2 separate regions of the Homo sapiens genome follow, and region 1 is linked to region 2. Evidence: fine-mapped expression QTL. A gene starts in region 2. The other region holds a variant in brackets. All regions are shown on one strand. Distances are between the middles of the regions.

Region 1 (8,333 bases), 440 kb after region 2:
GAAGAACAAACAACTTCTTAAGGGTTAATTGAAATATTTTATCAAATTTTATCAAACAAAATATTTTCAGCTGATATAATCCATCATTAAGGCTACAATATAAAGAGCTTTATTGCAAAAATCCAAATCCTTTTCTCTTCATCATTCTAGGGGCTATCTAAATAAACACAGCACAGGATCATAGTCACAGCAACTGAATGCTCCCTGAACTTCATCCCATAGCTACACAAACAATTAAATTTTCAAATGACCTTAGGAGGACATGGTCTACAACAGAAAGTTCAGACCATTCACATGAAACAAATGTCTTCAATGAGAATTGTCTACTAAATATTTAGTACCTCATCCAGAACCTCTAGGTTGACCAAATCATCCTCAAGGCAGTATTTTTCAGCATCTTCCACATGATAAGGTCTTCTGGTATGCATCCTCTCATGCCTAGAAATTTATCAAGAGAGTTTAAGCATTAAGACAGCAAATAATGTAGCAGAAAGCGGGCAGCAAGCATGGCTCATTCACAATCTTATCACGTGATATGTTCAGAGACTTCAGAGACAGGGACAGGAAGTCCAGTCCAGGTCCCCAGGCTTTTCCTGCCACTGTAGAACTATTGGGATAAAGTGATCTCCATAGTTCAAGTCTACTTCCTGCCAGAGTGAGGAGTGTTACCAAATGGGCCCACCTAATACACATACTTGCTTTTCTTAAATGCCAAAGACAGCACTTCCAGAATAAACACCTCTGACTTCTGCTCAGTGTCAGGCACATAGTTCTCACTGGGGTATAGCCATAAGTGCCTTACTTCCCTTGAGGTCCCCTTGCTTTATCTACCAGCACCACCCCCAACTTTTGTGATAGTTTTTAACCTACGTAACACTTTCAGAGATTAATATAGTAAATACCAAATAATTGATCACTGTTTATGTTTTTTCTTATTCATGTGAAATCCCTTTGTGACCCTTGTCCCATCCCACTCCTCTCTCCTGAGGTGACCACTATTTGATGGGTTTCCTTCCAGTCTATTTTTAAATATTGGTCATATGCCTATAGATACCCATGAGCAATATACAGGTTCTGTATGTTTAGTTATAAAAATGATATCATACTTAGGTTTTATACTGTAAGCTTACTTTTTTCATTAAACATTATGATTTTTAAACTCTATTTATCTATCTATCTACCTATCTACCTTACCCACTTACCTACCTACCTAGTTCAGTCACTTTAATCACTGGGTAGTATTATACTTTATGAATATGTACCTATTTATTTACTCAGTCCGATGGGGGGGGTTGTTGTTTTTAAAATTTTATTTATTTATTTAGTAATTTTTAGAGATGGGGTCTTGCTCTGTCACCAGGCTGAAATGCAGTGGCATAGTCATAGCTCACTGCAGCCTCAAACTCTTGGGCTCAAGCAACCCTCCCCACTCAGCCTCTCAACTAGCTGGTACTAGAAGTATGCACTATTGTGCCTGGCTAATTTTTTAAAATTATTTTTTGTAGAGATGGAGTTTTGCTTTGTTGTCCAGGCTAATCTCAAACTTCTGGCTTCAAGTGATCCTGCCACCTTGGCCTCTCAAAGTGCTGGGATTACAGGCATATGCCACTGCACCCGGCCTACTCAGTCCTATGTTGATCAACATTTAGGCTGATTCCAATTTTTTTGCTACTAGTAATAATGCAACACTTAAAACTTTATACACATCTTTTTGTGTATATATGTGAGTTTTTCTCCTGGAGGGCACTGTTCACTAAGGATTTAAAAATCTTGTTTGATAATCAGTAATAATCCCCTCTGGTATACTAAAATATAGCTCTTTAAGGTTTAAAATTAATTCAAGGTCAAAGTAGGCCTTCCCGTAATTCCTTTCATAAACTCATCACTCCTCAATGCGGTTTAGGAGGAAAGCATTGGCTAGAAGAGCTCTGGACCCTAGTTTCAGAGTTGCGAGCAATGTGGTATGAGACACTCAGCAAATCCCTTAACAGCCAGTATATCGGTTTTCTTCATCTATAAATAGAATTACTCATAACTGATCTGTCTATCTCCCAGGTAGCTGTGAAAGCACATATAGTCATGGATATAAAAATGCAATAAAGTTGAAAACATGTACTAATTATTATTCTTACATCCTTGTTAACATTTGGAATCAACAATTTGCATAACTACACACATTACTCTGAATATCATTGACTAAACAAAATCATACATAAACTGTCCTACATACTGTAAATTCACTAGCCCAGAAGCATAACTTCTTGATTCTTCTCTGTCACTTTTGTGCCCATCAACATCACAGCTTATGAGGATATCACCCACCAATACAATTCTATCTAGCTAGATCCTAGAAGCTGGTGTTGACTGAAAGTTTTATGGTAAGTACCAGCTAGAAGTCATGGAATCTTGATGTACACCCCACCCTTTGGTATGCATTTCACAAAAGTAGGTAAAAAGGAAGAAGCAAACTTATCAGCTCTGCATATTGAGTCTTGAGTTTATAATGCAATATTAATGGCCAAATAAAATGGATTTCTCTCTTTCTAGCCTATTAAGTTAAATCTTACCTTTCAATCTCCATCACTGATAAATTTGAAAAGAGATATTTGAAGCATGCTATTAGTCATCTCCAGTCCTAGAACCAGTTTTGCTGCTAATTCATATAAAGGTCCAAAGTAGAATGAAGCTTAATTTTTATTTAATCAAATCAAATTTATAACCTAAGCAGTTTAAAATTATTAAACAGAATTATTTATCTGTGACTTTACATATTGGTGATGGCAAAGAAAAATCAAATTGGTTTGTAATACAGATTTTTACTAAAACTCAGAGCTGCTGCCTGCCTCTAGCTAGCCATTTTGTTAAATAAAACAGCAGGAGGATACATATTTCCGATCAAAATCCCCTTCACATAAAACCTAAGAATAATTTTGCTTGAAGTTAATCAAAAAACAAAATACTGGCTGGGTACAGTGGTTCACGCCTGTAATCCCAGCACTTTGGGCGGCCAAGGCGGGTGGATCACAAGGTCAAGAGATTAAGACCATCCTGGCCAACATGGTGAAATCCCGTCTCTACCAAAAATACAAAAATTAGCTAGGCGTGGTGGTGCACGCCTGTAGCCCCAGCTACTCAGGAGGCTGAGGCAGGAGAATTGCTTGAACCCGGGAGGCAGAGGTTGCAGTGAGCCGAGATCAAGCCACTGCATGCCAACCTGGCAACAGAGCAAGATTCCGTCTCAAAAAAAAAAAAAAAAAAATTGTACCACATTTTCATGAAATAATTAAATTACCATATTAAATTCAGCTAGTTTGTCTCCTTCCTACATTTATATCTTATAATTGCATATTCTGCACATCATTTGACAAAGAAAATCAATAATTAAAAAATTACCTCAGATCTGGTTCTGGTCAAGATGGAGTAAGCCCTCTCCACTCCTCACTGAAGACAACTAAATACCCTTGTCAGAATGCATGGAGCAGCTATCTTAAGACTCTGAGAAGTAAATTGTAACAGGCAGACTGGGGAAGGAAGTCAGAACTCAAAATACCACTGAACCAATGGTGAGTTTTCCAGGCTTTTTTTTCCTTCAGTAACTCCTGACCTGGATTTAATGGCAGCCTGAGCTGCATACAGAAATGCCAAGCTTCACATTGGATGACATTTTTATAGCCAACTAAAAATGGAAGCATGGACCAAACCTTACTTGCAATCTCACAAATAGATGCAGTCTAGTAGAAAGTTTTAATTTTCAGTGTGAATATACACAATGCAATATCACTAGGATCAACATTGGTATCTTCTGAGCCTGAAGGAGATTGTGTGCTATGCCAATCTGTCTCACAGATATAACTTCCAAGAATCATGCAGATGTTGTCTGCAAATCTGAGCTTGATTCTTGTAAAAAATCTTCCCCAATAATATTGTATTAACAAAAAATAACTTTTTAAAAATTTTAACTGCTATTAGTAGCAATGTGTGGCCTCTTTCCATGCTTACAGGTGATCAAATTCTTTAGAAATATTTGCTCCTAAAAGTGAAGTAGGCAATCTAGAAGTGGATGTAGATGCAAGACTTCTCTACTCTGATAAAGACCACTTCGTTTTCTCAACCAGAAAAAATATATATATGTGTAGCACTATTTCTGCCTTCCACAACTAGTGTTCTTTGGAAACTGCTGCCCGCTTAACTTTCCTCCTCTGGCTATGGGGTTTGGAGGGTCTATCGTAGAGAAAAAGCATTATTTATTTCAATTTTTATCTCCTTTAAAAACATTTTCCTAGACTTTGCATAAGCTTATAAAAAGCGTTACGTTGTTTTATATTTCTCTATTTTTAGTTGAAATTAATAAAAATAAACTTGGTTTATTTTTTTAATTTTATTGAGTTAAGTGATTTGTGTCATTAGTAACTATAGATCTTAATTTCCTTTAAATTCACATGCTCCATCTAGTGCCCTACTTGAGAATAGGACCTATTATCAATTTTTGCTGAAGAATTCCTCGTTTAATGTGAAAATTACAGATCTCCAACTAAAAGCTACTTGGATCGAGTATTCCAAAGCTCAGAGGAATGGAGACATAGATAAATGAATGGATAAACAGCAAAAAACATTCTACTAAATCAAAAGTATGTGGTAAGGCACTGTAGTTTTAATGGCTCAGAAGACGTTTTCAAATTCCAGTAAAGTTTATATTGCTTTTCTTAGATTTCCTACTTGTTTTTATGA[G/C]TTTGTAAGTATGTTGGCTGCCAAGGCTGGCTTCTCAGACAAACAGAGTTTGCGAGTTGGAGCTTAGAGGGAAAGTCTTGGCTTGGACTGGTTCCTGGAGTTTGCTTTTGGTGTGGCAGTGGAGCGGGAGACTGTGGAGAGCAGGACGGGCCTTAGGTTTCAGGGATCAGGTAAAGGGGAAACTGGTGCCTGAATCCATGGATCAAGTAGGGTGGGAATGAGGGCAAGTCTGTACCATCAAGTCCAAGGAAATGAGTGCAGCGTAAGAATAGAATCTGAAGAACGGGAAAGACAGAGCCAGAGGTAGAGGCTGGGAGTTCCCCTAAGACAACAGTGGGCATAGATGAGGTAGAGGATGGGGGTCTTTGTTCAAATCTTTGGCCCAGCCAATGAGTGGGAAAGGAGCTTTAGAGGACACCAAACTGGTTTAAACACTAGAAGAATTATTCTCATGAAATAAACTCCTAAAGTGTTGCAGCTTTCACTCTAGTTTAATCTCTGTATCTGCATTATGGTTAAAACCATTTCTGTGTCATTGTTCTCTAATATCTCATCACTGGGCCTGCTAGCTTCTTTGTTTGAGCTGCTAGTCCTATGAACTATATTGACAAACATATTTTGCCCAAAAGTGACTCATTAATCAATTAGCCTCTTTCTGTCTGCCAGTTATGCCTATGGAAGTGGAGGCTTCCATGTAGGTAGGTACAAACAGAGCTGCAAGAACTTCACGTAGGTGAGACAGGATACGCTCTTCCTTTCACTCCCCAACTATGATGAAGAACAAGTAATAGAAAAAGGTGCTCTAAATCATAACTCAAACATGAGAAGGAAACAAATTCTTCTAGCTTATCAATTCAGCCTAATAATAATAACAACAAGCAATATACTCCTAAGAAGTTAATCTCTGCACTGAGAAATGCCTGCTGGCTTCTTAGAGAGTCACCCTGTGTCAGCACCATTGTGAAGGTCACCTCTGCCTCTGCTCCTCCACACCCAGGATAAGAACCCTCTCCTCCGTCCAAGAGTGGAACTGCAAAAAGTGGAGAATGACTATCACTGTTACCAGATTCCAGATGGAAAAGGAAGTAAAATTTGTTGCGGATAGAGGCAAAAAAAAAAATAGAGAGAGGGAATAAGGAAAAAGGTGCAGGCTCAAAGATGTCAGTCCTCAAGAATCTAGGACAAAAGCCTCCATGGCCATAGAGAGAACTCAGGGATCACTCCCTTATCACTACATTCAATGGATTCCATACAAGAAAGAAAACATTACTCAAAACTGAGAATAGAGTACTGTTACTACACCAAGGTCAGTGATGTTGAATATTTCTTCTAAATCTTAATTTCCATTCAATATACCCTTTGATAACAGAGCCAATGAAAGAGGGACTTTTATTTTACCGTAACTATATAATAATGGACCTCAAACGAGAAAAACAATAGCAGACCTTTGAGGAATGACATTATTCTACTGAGAGTCAAATATGGACAGAGATAGCAGCTGGATACCTTTAACTACATGAGCTGTATCTTGACCCTGAACTTAAGGCTATGTCTTTCAAACAATACAATGCATAAATTTTAAAATAGGAGAATTGTTTGGGTGGAAATTATTATAGTATCTGCCCATTTTTCATCTAAGCACCGTTTTGGCCAGAATCCCAATAAATCAGCATCTTATCATTAATCATATTAAACAGTATTTGATATACCCAACTTCTCTAAGCGGCAAGAATCAGTAACACCAGCATAAAATTAATATTAACTAACTTACTCATTTGTAGATAGACAGATATAGGTATAGATAGATAGCAGATACTAATTATAGCAAGGTATAGATTTATTTCTTCTGTTAGGAAGATAAAAGGATATTTAACCTCCTGTGTGTTAAGCTTCTTCAGCACTTTATGAAGTAATCTTTCTGGAGTTACTTATTTACATAAGAACCCAATAACCCATTAGTGTATATAATATGGGGTGCTCTGTGTGTGTGTGTGTGTGTGTGTGCATGCATGCACATATTTGAAGGTAGAAGAGGGAGAGAGTGAGCAAGGATTACTGGGGAAAACTAGCAGTTAAATAGTGAGAAATCTGTTTTTAAAGGTCATTGCTGCAGGTTGAAAAGAAATCAAAAGCTGAAGTCATTGTTTTAATCAGCCTCAGGCAAATTGCAAGGGCGACATGACAACCCATTAAACAGAGCAGAAAAAAAAAAAACCCAGCAACTTAATTCTTCTACCAAGTAATACTTAGAACAGACCCTTGGCATTTAGGGTTTAACATCTGTGGTTTCAGCTAGTACCAAGCCACCTGCAGGGGCACGGCATGCTGGATCTTGTAATTTTACTGAGGTTCACGGTTGAGTTCATGGTCGTGGCAGAGACAATCGAGTCCTTTCCCTGCCTCCACTCACATTCCAGAGAGTGGTTTCACTCTTCTCCCAATAACCCTTGTAAAATGATACAAAGCATGTTTTCAATCTACTTCTCTGAACTTTAACAGTGAGATGACATACCAGATGATACTAATGAATTCAGGGATTTGCAAAACTGGTTTGGGGAAGAAGTCGTCTTTTTGCAGATCAAGGAAATAGGTGCTGATATAAAGGAAATGACCAAATAGTTTAAAAACACCTCCAACAGATGAAGTAACAATGTACTTTCAGCCCATTGTTCACATAGTTTTAGGGCTTCTTTAGCCCTTTAGGGCTTACTCCTTTAAAAGAGTAAGACTTGGATTAATAACTGCTCTATTGTACCTGAATCAAATACATGCATTGGCACAATTATAATTTACTGGAAAAACTTAAATTCCAATGATGTCATACATACACTATAATCAGCATCAGGTAATGGTATCTATCAAATCTCAAATAGTACAATATCACTTCTCCACAGGTGCCTCTGCTGTCCTGTATCTATATCTGTAGTGTGTGTGTGTGTGTGTGTGTGTGTGTGTGTGTGTGTGTGTATGTATGCATATATATATATAGAGAGAGTGAAATAGGGATGAATCACATCCTGGCTTTCCAAAAAGCACTCAGAAAAGCCTGAATGGTTAGACCCAGGAGAGGTGAGACAGGGGACTTACAAATTCAAGCCCTCCAAGCACAGTACAGCTTCTGCTCTATGTGAACAAGCCCTCCATGATTCTTAGCCTTGTTTTTGAATACTCTTGAATATGTGCCATAACTGAGATGGATCTGATCTAAGAGTTCCTCAACCTGTCAACACTTAAAAAACATTTCTTTCTATTCCACCGAAGTTGCCCACAAGCTCAGCTATCCTTAGTTCCTAATTATCTATCAAAAGTTCCTAGGATCTCAGTTCTACAATCCCTTTTCTCATCATCCCCTCACTGAATCTGCTCTTCATCTTTGTTGTAATAGCCAGTCCCAGGACTAGATCAGCCTCAAAGTCAATAAGCCAGTCTGGTGTCACTTTCTTCCCTACCCACAAAGATCCCAAGGCCACTCTTCTACTAACCTCGATTCCCTTGCTTCCTTGCCCACTCATCATGTCCACTGAAGTCAGTCTCTAGCCTGAAGAAGACCATAATGTCTGCTTTCTCTACTCCTAACTCCTTGCTGCTAAGAGTTAATTGAGATG
Region 2 (8,333 bases):
TTGGCATTTGCGCCGGCGACTGGCGGCCACCGGGAATTCCGTAAGGGCGCCGGGAGTGGAGGGCAAATTAACACAACTGCCCGCTAACCCCCCACCCCCACCCCCAGGCGGCAAAAGGGAGCGGGAAATGTGGAAAGCGTCAGAAAAGAAATCCATCAAGGCGAAAGCACCACACAAAGGCGCGCAGGCCTCGCGTTCCTCCCGCCCTGCCCTGGCCAGCTCCAACGCCGGTGCCTGGTTCATATGCTACCAGGGCTGGCGACTCTCCCGAGGCCCTCTTTGTTGTGTGGGTAATTGTATCCCTCCTGGGTGGCGGGAAGAGGGAGCTGCAAAGGAAATTGGAATGAGACCTGAGGACTTAACACGAGACCTCCTGCCCGGGAGCCAATGCCAGCGTCTAAAGGGGCTTTCCGGTAATAATCCCCACTTCATTGATGAGGATACTTATTTTCTCAAATATAAAGTGCCATAAAAGCGCATCAATAAGCACTCCCTGTAACCACACTATCCTTCTTAAGCCCTTTCTGTATACAAATTCTGGAAATTCATACAATTAATTACATCTCAGAAATAAATAAATGGGGGAGTGGGAACACTTACAGTCTGAAGCTGATAAGTTTTTTTAGGGGGGTGGGGTCAGGAGACACTTCTTCACTCCAACAAGGAAAAAGAAAAACAATTTTCTCATCTCAAGCCTTTACAGAGGTAGGAAATAAAATTAAAGATAGATTCTGGAAATGGGTTGAGGAGCCTGTCGCACTTAAGACAGGGAAGCATAAATCCTCCCCCCTCTTTTATCTGGTGTCTCTTTTCTTTCTCTCTTTTCGGGACATGTCACCTCCTGACAGATCTCTTGCCTGGGATAAGGAGAGAGGTGCTCTCTCCTCTCTATGATAAAGCTTCTTGCCCCCTCCCAGTTCCCCATCTCTTGCCACTCAGGATGCCGCCCGCTCCCCTATTTATTTATTTATTTATTTATTTCTCTGAGATGTAATTAATTGTATGAAATGTCAAGGCTCAGTCTCAGTTTTATGCACCTTTCCCGCCCCTGACTTCTCCCTAACTCGTCAATAGCTTGATGCAAATTTGGAGCAATTAGGGACCTTGAGTTTTCTAAAAGCTGCAATTAACGTCGAAATTTCCGCTGATTATAGACTTTGAACACAGCCCAGGGGGAAAGGAGGAGGTCAGATCTTGGCTCAACGAAAGCCGGGGACTGAAAACTCTTATTCCTGCTGGGGCTCCTAGCTCTTCATTCCGCCCCCTGCGCTGACCCCTGTCGTCCCACGGAGCAAAGAAACCACACACAACAGAATAAAAACAACACCCTGGCTGCGCGCCCCTCCTCCTCCGCGAAGCCCTCAACGATCGCCGCTGCTCGGACCTTGCGTGGTCCTCGCTTTCCGGTGCCCTGGGAGTCACCTAGCGTCCCTGACAGCCGAATGACCTCTGGCAGGGACGGGGTCAGAGCCCCATTTATTTCCCAGCCTCCATTATCTCCGCGCTCCCCCTTCCCTTTCCGCCAGCTCAGCCTCCCGACGTCCCAGCGCCCCCATCTTCCCTGCAGTTCATTTGATAGAAAATTGGGGCGGGACCTACTTGTGGGGCGCAGGTTAGTGGTATTGGGGTCCGCTCCCGCGTTCGAGGAGGTTGCGGACGAAGATGGGGTCGAAGACGCCATCAGCTCGGTCGTCCCGGGGCCTCTACTGTCCAGAGTCCTCGACTGGTCCGGCGCAGAAACAGGCTGCAAAGAGAAGCGAGAGCTGTGCGGGGAGGACTTCCGGGGTCCTGCACACCGGAGGGACTGAGCAGCCGGGGGCACGGAGGCTCCCCTTGAAGATCCGGCTCTGGAGAGACAAGAGGGAGGAAAGGCAGCGAGCCTGCCTGGTAGGGGTGCGCAGGGGTGGGGGCAGCGGAGGAGACGTGCGCGCTAGCTCCGGTACTGGGGCGCAGGGAGCGTAGCCCTGGGCCGCTCTCGAGTCTGGCGGTGCATCGGCGCGACCTGGAGTGAAGCGCCGAGACGAGGCGGGGTCGGGGTCGGGGTGGGGGTCCAAGGCCAGTACAAGACGCAAGGGTGTGGGGGACTAGGCTAGGAGCACAGGGGAGCGCTCAGTGAGCGATTTTCCAGCCGAGCCGCTACAAGCCCCATTGGGCACTCAGCAGCCGGCGTGTGGGCCAGCGGGGGGAGGGCGCACGGGGCGGGCATGTCTGGTTCGGTGTCTGGTTCCCGTTGTTGTGTCTGGCTAATTCCCTGGAAAGAAAGAGGCTAACTGCTCCGGGGACTAGGGACTTTGGTGAGACAAGGTGAGAGGGGGAAAAAGGCCCATATCTTTACGTTCTCCCTCGGACTTGGCCAGAGAAGAACCACAGTCACCTTGCACTCCAGACAGCCAGAAAGCAGCGAGTCGGAATGTTGCTTGCCTCCCTCTTATCCCAGCCGGTTTTTAGCCATCGCTAAGCCTAGGGCGAGGTTTCGGTCCGGTTTCAGCGTTTCTCCTCTACCTAGCCCCCTGAGGACCCCAGATTTCTCGCGGTACAGATCCAGAGAGGGTGGGGTAAGTAAGCATGGGGAACGTCACCGGGGAAACGAACTTGCGCGCAGCGCGCAGGAGGCGGCGGACAAAGATCTTGCGCGGCGCCCCTGCTCGACTCTCGGCGCTGGCGCGATGGCGCCCGAAGGCCCCGGGACAGAGAGATTGCGGGCTAATCTGGGTAGATCGAGGACCCCACAGAGAAGGGCCCACCGGCCATCGCCTCCACACCCTCCCTCCGACCTCACTCCTAGCCCCGCGCGCGCAGTCGCACAGCAACTCGGGCAGCGGGTCGACTACGGCCCCTGGAAAAGTAACAGGTTACCGTTCCTAGTAGCGCCTTCGGCTGCTGCTGCCCAGGCGCCCTTTGGAGGGACAGGCGCTCGCAGCATGGAAGCTCAAGGGAAAATCGCTCTTGCCCCACTTCAACTAGAGCCTCAGCCTCCGTGCTTCCCCGGGGCGTGAATCCGGAGGGCAGGGATAAGAAGAGTGACGAGGGAGGCGGGGGGGGGGGGGTCCCTGCGCAGCGCACCCGTGGAGAGCAGGGACTAGGGCGGGCAGGAAGCACTCATTTCGGGAGGTTGGGTGGCCGGCGCTGGGATGGGGTTGGTTGAGAAGCCGCGGGAGGAGAGGACCTGGCTGAAAAGCCACGGTTGGGCGCTGGGAAGTCCAGGTGGTCGCTAGCTTACCCACCTCGGCTCTGCGACAGCGAGCCGGGCACTCCCGCCTTTCCTCTGCACAGCGCCCAGCGATCCGCTCGGCTCGGCCCTGACAGGCGTAATCTGCCCGGCGTCACCTCCAGCTGCTTCCTCGTTCTCGCTAGTTCCCTCTCGCACGCGAGCGCCAGGAGAAGAGAGAGATTCGGAGAGGCGGCTGCACGGCTCCGGGGTAGGCGGGGGCAGAGTGGGGAGGCGGGGACCGGATCGGCGGGGAAATCACGAGGCCGTTGCTCGCGGGGGCAGCTAGTCGGCGGAGCGGCGGGGCTCCTCTGCAGGTGCCTGACCGCCTCTGGAGCTTTATAGGGCGATTATAAATCCAGCTCACGGTTTTGCGCCCGGAAGGAAAAAAAAAAGGTCTTATGAGTAATCCAGAACGTACTCAACACGCTTTTTTTTTTTCCTTTGGAAATAGGCAGGCTGTCGGGTGAGAGGAGGGAAAAGATAATTCCTACGAAGAATTCTGCCTTTCTGAGCGTTTCTTCTTCCCTCCCCTCCTTTCCCCTCTCCCATTTCCCCTCCCCCTCCCATATATTGTAGGAGACGAGCGGCGGTTTTGCCTCAGTGCTTTTCCCCGGGGTTCCCCCAGATCTGTGACCCTGCGACGCTTCCTTGAGCGAAAGCGCGCTTTGGGTCGTGTCCTCGTTGGCTCTCTACGGAGCTGGGATTGTTGTAACCGCAAAGGAGGCAGAAATGAGGGGAGACCTCTTAGACCATGGAGGAATTACAGTTTCCTCATCCAGCCCTGGGCCCCATCAAAGTACCACACCTGGCCACAGCTACCCAGTGCCACCGGCAGAGAAAAGGACCCCGCGTCCCTTTTGCTATGCGCTCGCTCCTCGCTTTGGCCCCCTTGGTGATGGGAAAAGAAGGCCTCCTGATTAATCACGTTTGAAGGTTGATGACACGCACGAGCGCCGCTGCACGCGCATGGGGCACCCGAGCACAGAGGTGCCCGGAAGGGGCGGACCAGCCCCCCTTGCCCTGGCCCGCTCCCCCTTCGATTTCACGCGCTTTAAGGATTCTCCCTTTGCAATATTTAGGCGTAGTTAAAAGAACCGCTGCGTTGGGAGAAGCCCCTCGCCGTAAAAATGCGTTGAAAGAGAAATTCCCACCAGAGGGCGCCAAGAGCCCAGAGACGGAGAGGCCCTGCGCTCCCGGGTCTCTCCGCCAGCGCCCGAGCGGAGCCCACACCTGGAGCTGCTGGCCAGACGGTTACGCGCCGGCTTGCCTCTTCATGCCTTCCCTCACCGCCCTGTCACTAGTTTAAGTTCTCCCCTTTCTTCTCCCCCAGTTTTTTTCTTTAGGGCAAAAATGTTGATGTCTGTGCGTGTCTGGGTGACACCGTGTAGGCAGTGATTCCTTTACTGGTATTTACCGTGGTCCTCCCCCTCTCCCCAGGTGGTGCAGCACGCAGGGGTTATTTATGCGCACGTCTGGGGCCTCACTGGTTCAGCGGAGGCCCGTCCGTTTTCTTTGAATGCCTTATCGCCTTTCACCACAACACAATGGAAACACACACAAAAATATTATAAATTACCGAGAGTTCCATAAGGGAGATCGAAGGGTCCGCCCTGGGCAGACATGGCCTGATCAGCAAGAGGGATCTCGCTGTGGGGTTTGAAATAATCGCGTTGCCTTTGGTACTAAAGAAACTACTGTTTTGTCGCCTTGTCTCCACCTGACGATGAAATCCCCGGCACTTTTTAAGGACACAAAAAACATCCTAAACGGCGGGGCGCGCGGTGACTGCAGCCCCGGGCACTGAGGCTTGGGGCTGGACAGGCTGGGGGTGTCTGCTCCACGTAGGAAACGTCCCCCCAAACCACTCAACCGGCAGCTGCTCTGCGCTGCTTGAAGTGGGCGGCATACAACCAGGTGAAGCTCGGAATTCCATCCACCGGCCCTCCTAGAGCCTTCCCTAAACGAGACGCTCGCACCAATCAGGGAGCCAGGTGCCAGTGCTAAATCATTCAAGACGCACGGGGCAGGAGACAGGAAGGAGGAGGCAACACATCTCCCGGTGCCCCTCGTTCTTCATTGTCCAGCATAGACGCCCGCTCGCCTCAACCTTTTCCCAAAACCCGTGATTCCCTGGAAAGGAAGATTCGTTTACTTCACCTGTGGCACGAGATTGAGACATTTCCAACCACTTCCTCCTTTGACCCCAGAGTTCAAAACACCCCTAACGTTTTAGCCAATGAAATAATCTCGTTGGAGAAGGAATCTCCTGCAAGGCTAGGTAACGCAAGCTGAAGCTGAGTCCGTCCAGCTTCGAGGACATCCCTCTCTTTCTCCTTTATGGTGAGTAGGGGAGGAATGAAGACTTTTGTCCGTCCTTGTTTAGAATGTTTAATTGAATATTAGCAGTAATTGATTAAACGAATATTTATTAATCCCCTACTATGTGCCAAGCACTTATTTTTTGGAGCTTGCATTGTCCCTGCGGTTTATATTATCCTGCACGCCGGGAGTGGACATTCCGGTGAGGCAGGGAGAGGAGCGCACTTAGAAACTTCATAAATTTGATTTAATTTTCAATGATCTCCTCCAACTCGAACTCTTGGGCACAGCAGGAATGGTAATGAATTGAAGGCCTGGAATTCCACTCCATCCAGATTACTGAGTTTTGAGGTAGGGCATAGATCTTTCAGCACGAAGGACAGCGCCCGTCCTTCTGGTCCCCATGCCTCTGTTTCGTTTGCTTCCGCCAATAGCTATGGGCCAACCCACCAGACTCGCCCCAGCCCTCCTCCCTCCTGACAGTAACTGCTGTTTGTTTTGCCTAGTTGGGGGGTGAGGTATTTCGCCCACTGCTCTTCTCTCCGGTAGGAATTTGAACTAAGAGTGGCCGTGGTTGTCATTCGGCTCTAAACAACATTTGAAACCTATATTTTTGTTTATGTCTTTCACTCTTCCTTTAATCTTTTATCATTCCTGGGGGAGGATTCTTGGGATAATGGGGGTGGAAAAAAGATATCCTCTCCGGGGACTCGAACCGGTGATGAGGGGTGGCCCGGAAGGGAGTGGTGTCCGCCCAGCTGTTTCGATTGTATTTGAAGCGCTTTGAAGAAATGGGAACGCGGCGCTCAAAGGCAGAAGAAGGAGGGGGCGATATGCGACCCCTCCAGTCTCTCTCCGGCATTAGGGATTTGCGAGCTTGCAGCCCCGGCTACTCCACCCTGTCTGCCGAGGATAACGTTTCCTTAGGTCAACCACCGCTGGGACTTGGGAACACGACCCTCCGCCCACAATGCCCTTTATTCCTTTCCCCGTCGTGGGTGGGTGGGGGATTGTTTAAAGATATTCCAACCGGATTTGGGGCCAAGCCTTTTCTGCAAAGGGAAAAACGGGTGAGTAGGAGGAGCGTGAGGCGTTGAAGGAGCGCCCAAACGGGCTGCGGGGAGATCTTCACGCCTAAAACGTGGTCAGTCAAGGTGAGTAGACAGGACACGTCAATTTTTTTTGACGCAATTAGAATTTTTAGCCTCCAGGAAACGTAATTTAGAGCCATGGTATTGGTTCGTTTCAGCTGGCTCCTTAAAATCTATTTTAAGTGTCTAATTTATGACCAGAAAGGAAAAAAAAAATGGCAGTGCTCACCGGTTAAACGTCTGTCTCCCGAGACGAGAACTGGGGGAAGCGTTACTTAACCTTTCATTCTGCTTAAGTCGGAGCTAAGGTCCATTTGCTGTTTTTGTACTTTAAAGATAGTTCCCTGAATTATTCTGGACTTTTTTGAAGGATCATAGCTAAATCCACACCCCCATCCCAACAGACCACACAACACTCACAGCTGGGAGGCAGGAAAATGTTAAAAGGGTGAGAGGGGGTGGGAGGGGTGACAGCAGAATGCTGGAAGGCTGGAGAGGACTCTAGGAATTACAGCCACTTTTTCTAAAGAAGAGAGCTGGATTCTTCGGATAACTGGCAAATGGTCCTTCCCCCTTGATAGTCAGAAGATGAAAATATTCTAATACAAATAAATGAATCAAGGAGGACAGGGTGATTTGTGTTTGGGCAAATCTCCTTGTGCAAATCTTGAAACGTCCAATTCTTGCTATTCTAAACTCGAAGACAGAATGACCACCAGGTGGCAATAGATTACAATTTCTGAGAAGAAACAACAGGCCTCCCAAGGGAGCAGTTCTTCAAGGAAGAATGCAGGCTCATACTCATCCCTGCCAAATTTCACAAAGCAGGGCCTTTTCAAATGGTCAGAAGTGCTCTGGAAGTGACCTGAAACACCTAGGGTAGTGCGTCTCTTTGGTGAAAGACTAGGGGGTGCATGGCATCTGTTTTTTTCCCACCTAGCTGTGTCTCAAATGTAGTGAACCTGTGAATATTAGGCAAGAAACTGATTCACTGCAAAACTGGAAACCAAGGAAATACAGTTCTGGATTGTAATTCTGATGGGGAGCTTTAAAGGTATATCTGTGTCTTCTGATCTCAACAAAAACCAAGGCGAAATCAGTCCTTCCCCAAAAGGGTGGGATGCAAAAAGGAGGATTTCCCACCTGAGATGCTTTAGTGAAATACAGAATTCATGGGAGACTGAGGAGAGTAATATTTTATTCATTTCTTTTAGTGTAAAAGCTCTTGGACTACTTAAAATAACAGATATTTAGTCCCCATTTTCAAACATAGGTATCTGGGACTGTTGTTTGTGAAAAGGTTCTGGAAAGTTCTGACTTAGTTGTGGCGAATCTAATAACTTAAACTTCTATTCCAGGCCAGGTTTCTTCCCCTAATCCTGACCAGTTACTCAGGGGAGGAAACTGGAACTTTAACAGAAGGGGTGCATGATTGATTGCCGTTCCCATTAGGCCCCACCTTCAACATTGGGGGTCACATTTCAGCACGAGATTAGAGAGGACAAACATCCAAACTATATCAAATATTGTGACAATAGCTGACGAATACACTCTCCTATACCAAGAAGGGCAACGGGGACTGTGTGCGGTGGTTCACGCCTGTAATCCCTGCACTTTAGGAGGCCGAGGCAGGCAGATCTCTTGAGGCCAGGAGTTCGAGACTAGCCTGGGCAACATGGAGAAACCCAATCTCTATTAAACATACAAAAATT

Which allele goes with the higher level. Positions count from the first base shown, and alleles are read on the strand shown. Sizes are in standard deviations (SD) of each study's normalised expression.
As copies of C replace G in region 1, the expression in tibial artery of the gene that starts at base 3,386 in region 2 goes up (moderate effect, 0.45 SD a copy in GTEx).

What was found.
Region 1: its variant is fine-mapped to the expression of GAD1 in tibial artery (GTEx, PIP above 0.99). The same link has a PIP of 0.9 or more in aorta and coronary artery.

Annotation. Positions count from the first base shown.
Region 1 is chr2:170,374,121-170,382,453 of GRCh38, reverse strand. MYO3B (myosin IIIB) reads right to left here. Exons shown (of 35, transcript NM_138995.5): 10 at 342-438. Among named protein-coding and RNA genes, the nearest start is that of MYO3B-AS1, 27 kb to the right of the region's middle. The variant G/C (reference allele first, on the strand shown) is at 4,729.
Region 2 is chr2:170,811,940-170,820,272 of GRCh38, reverse strand. GAD1 (glutamate decarboxylase 1) reads right to left here and starts at 3,386. Exons shown (of 17, transcript NM_000817.3): 1 at 3,225-3,386; 2 at 1,600-1,744. The coding sequence starts at 1,681. GAD1-AS1 (GAD1 antisense RNA 1) reads left to right here and starts at 1,622. Exons shown (of 4, transcript NR_197761.1): 1 at 1,622-1,887; 2 at 2,358-2,555; 3 at 3,241-3,419; 4 at 3,788-5,650. RefSeq lists enhancers at 949-1,471, 1,472-1,995, 3,235-3,404 and a silencer at 3,492-3,571.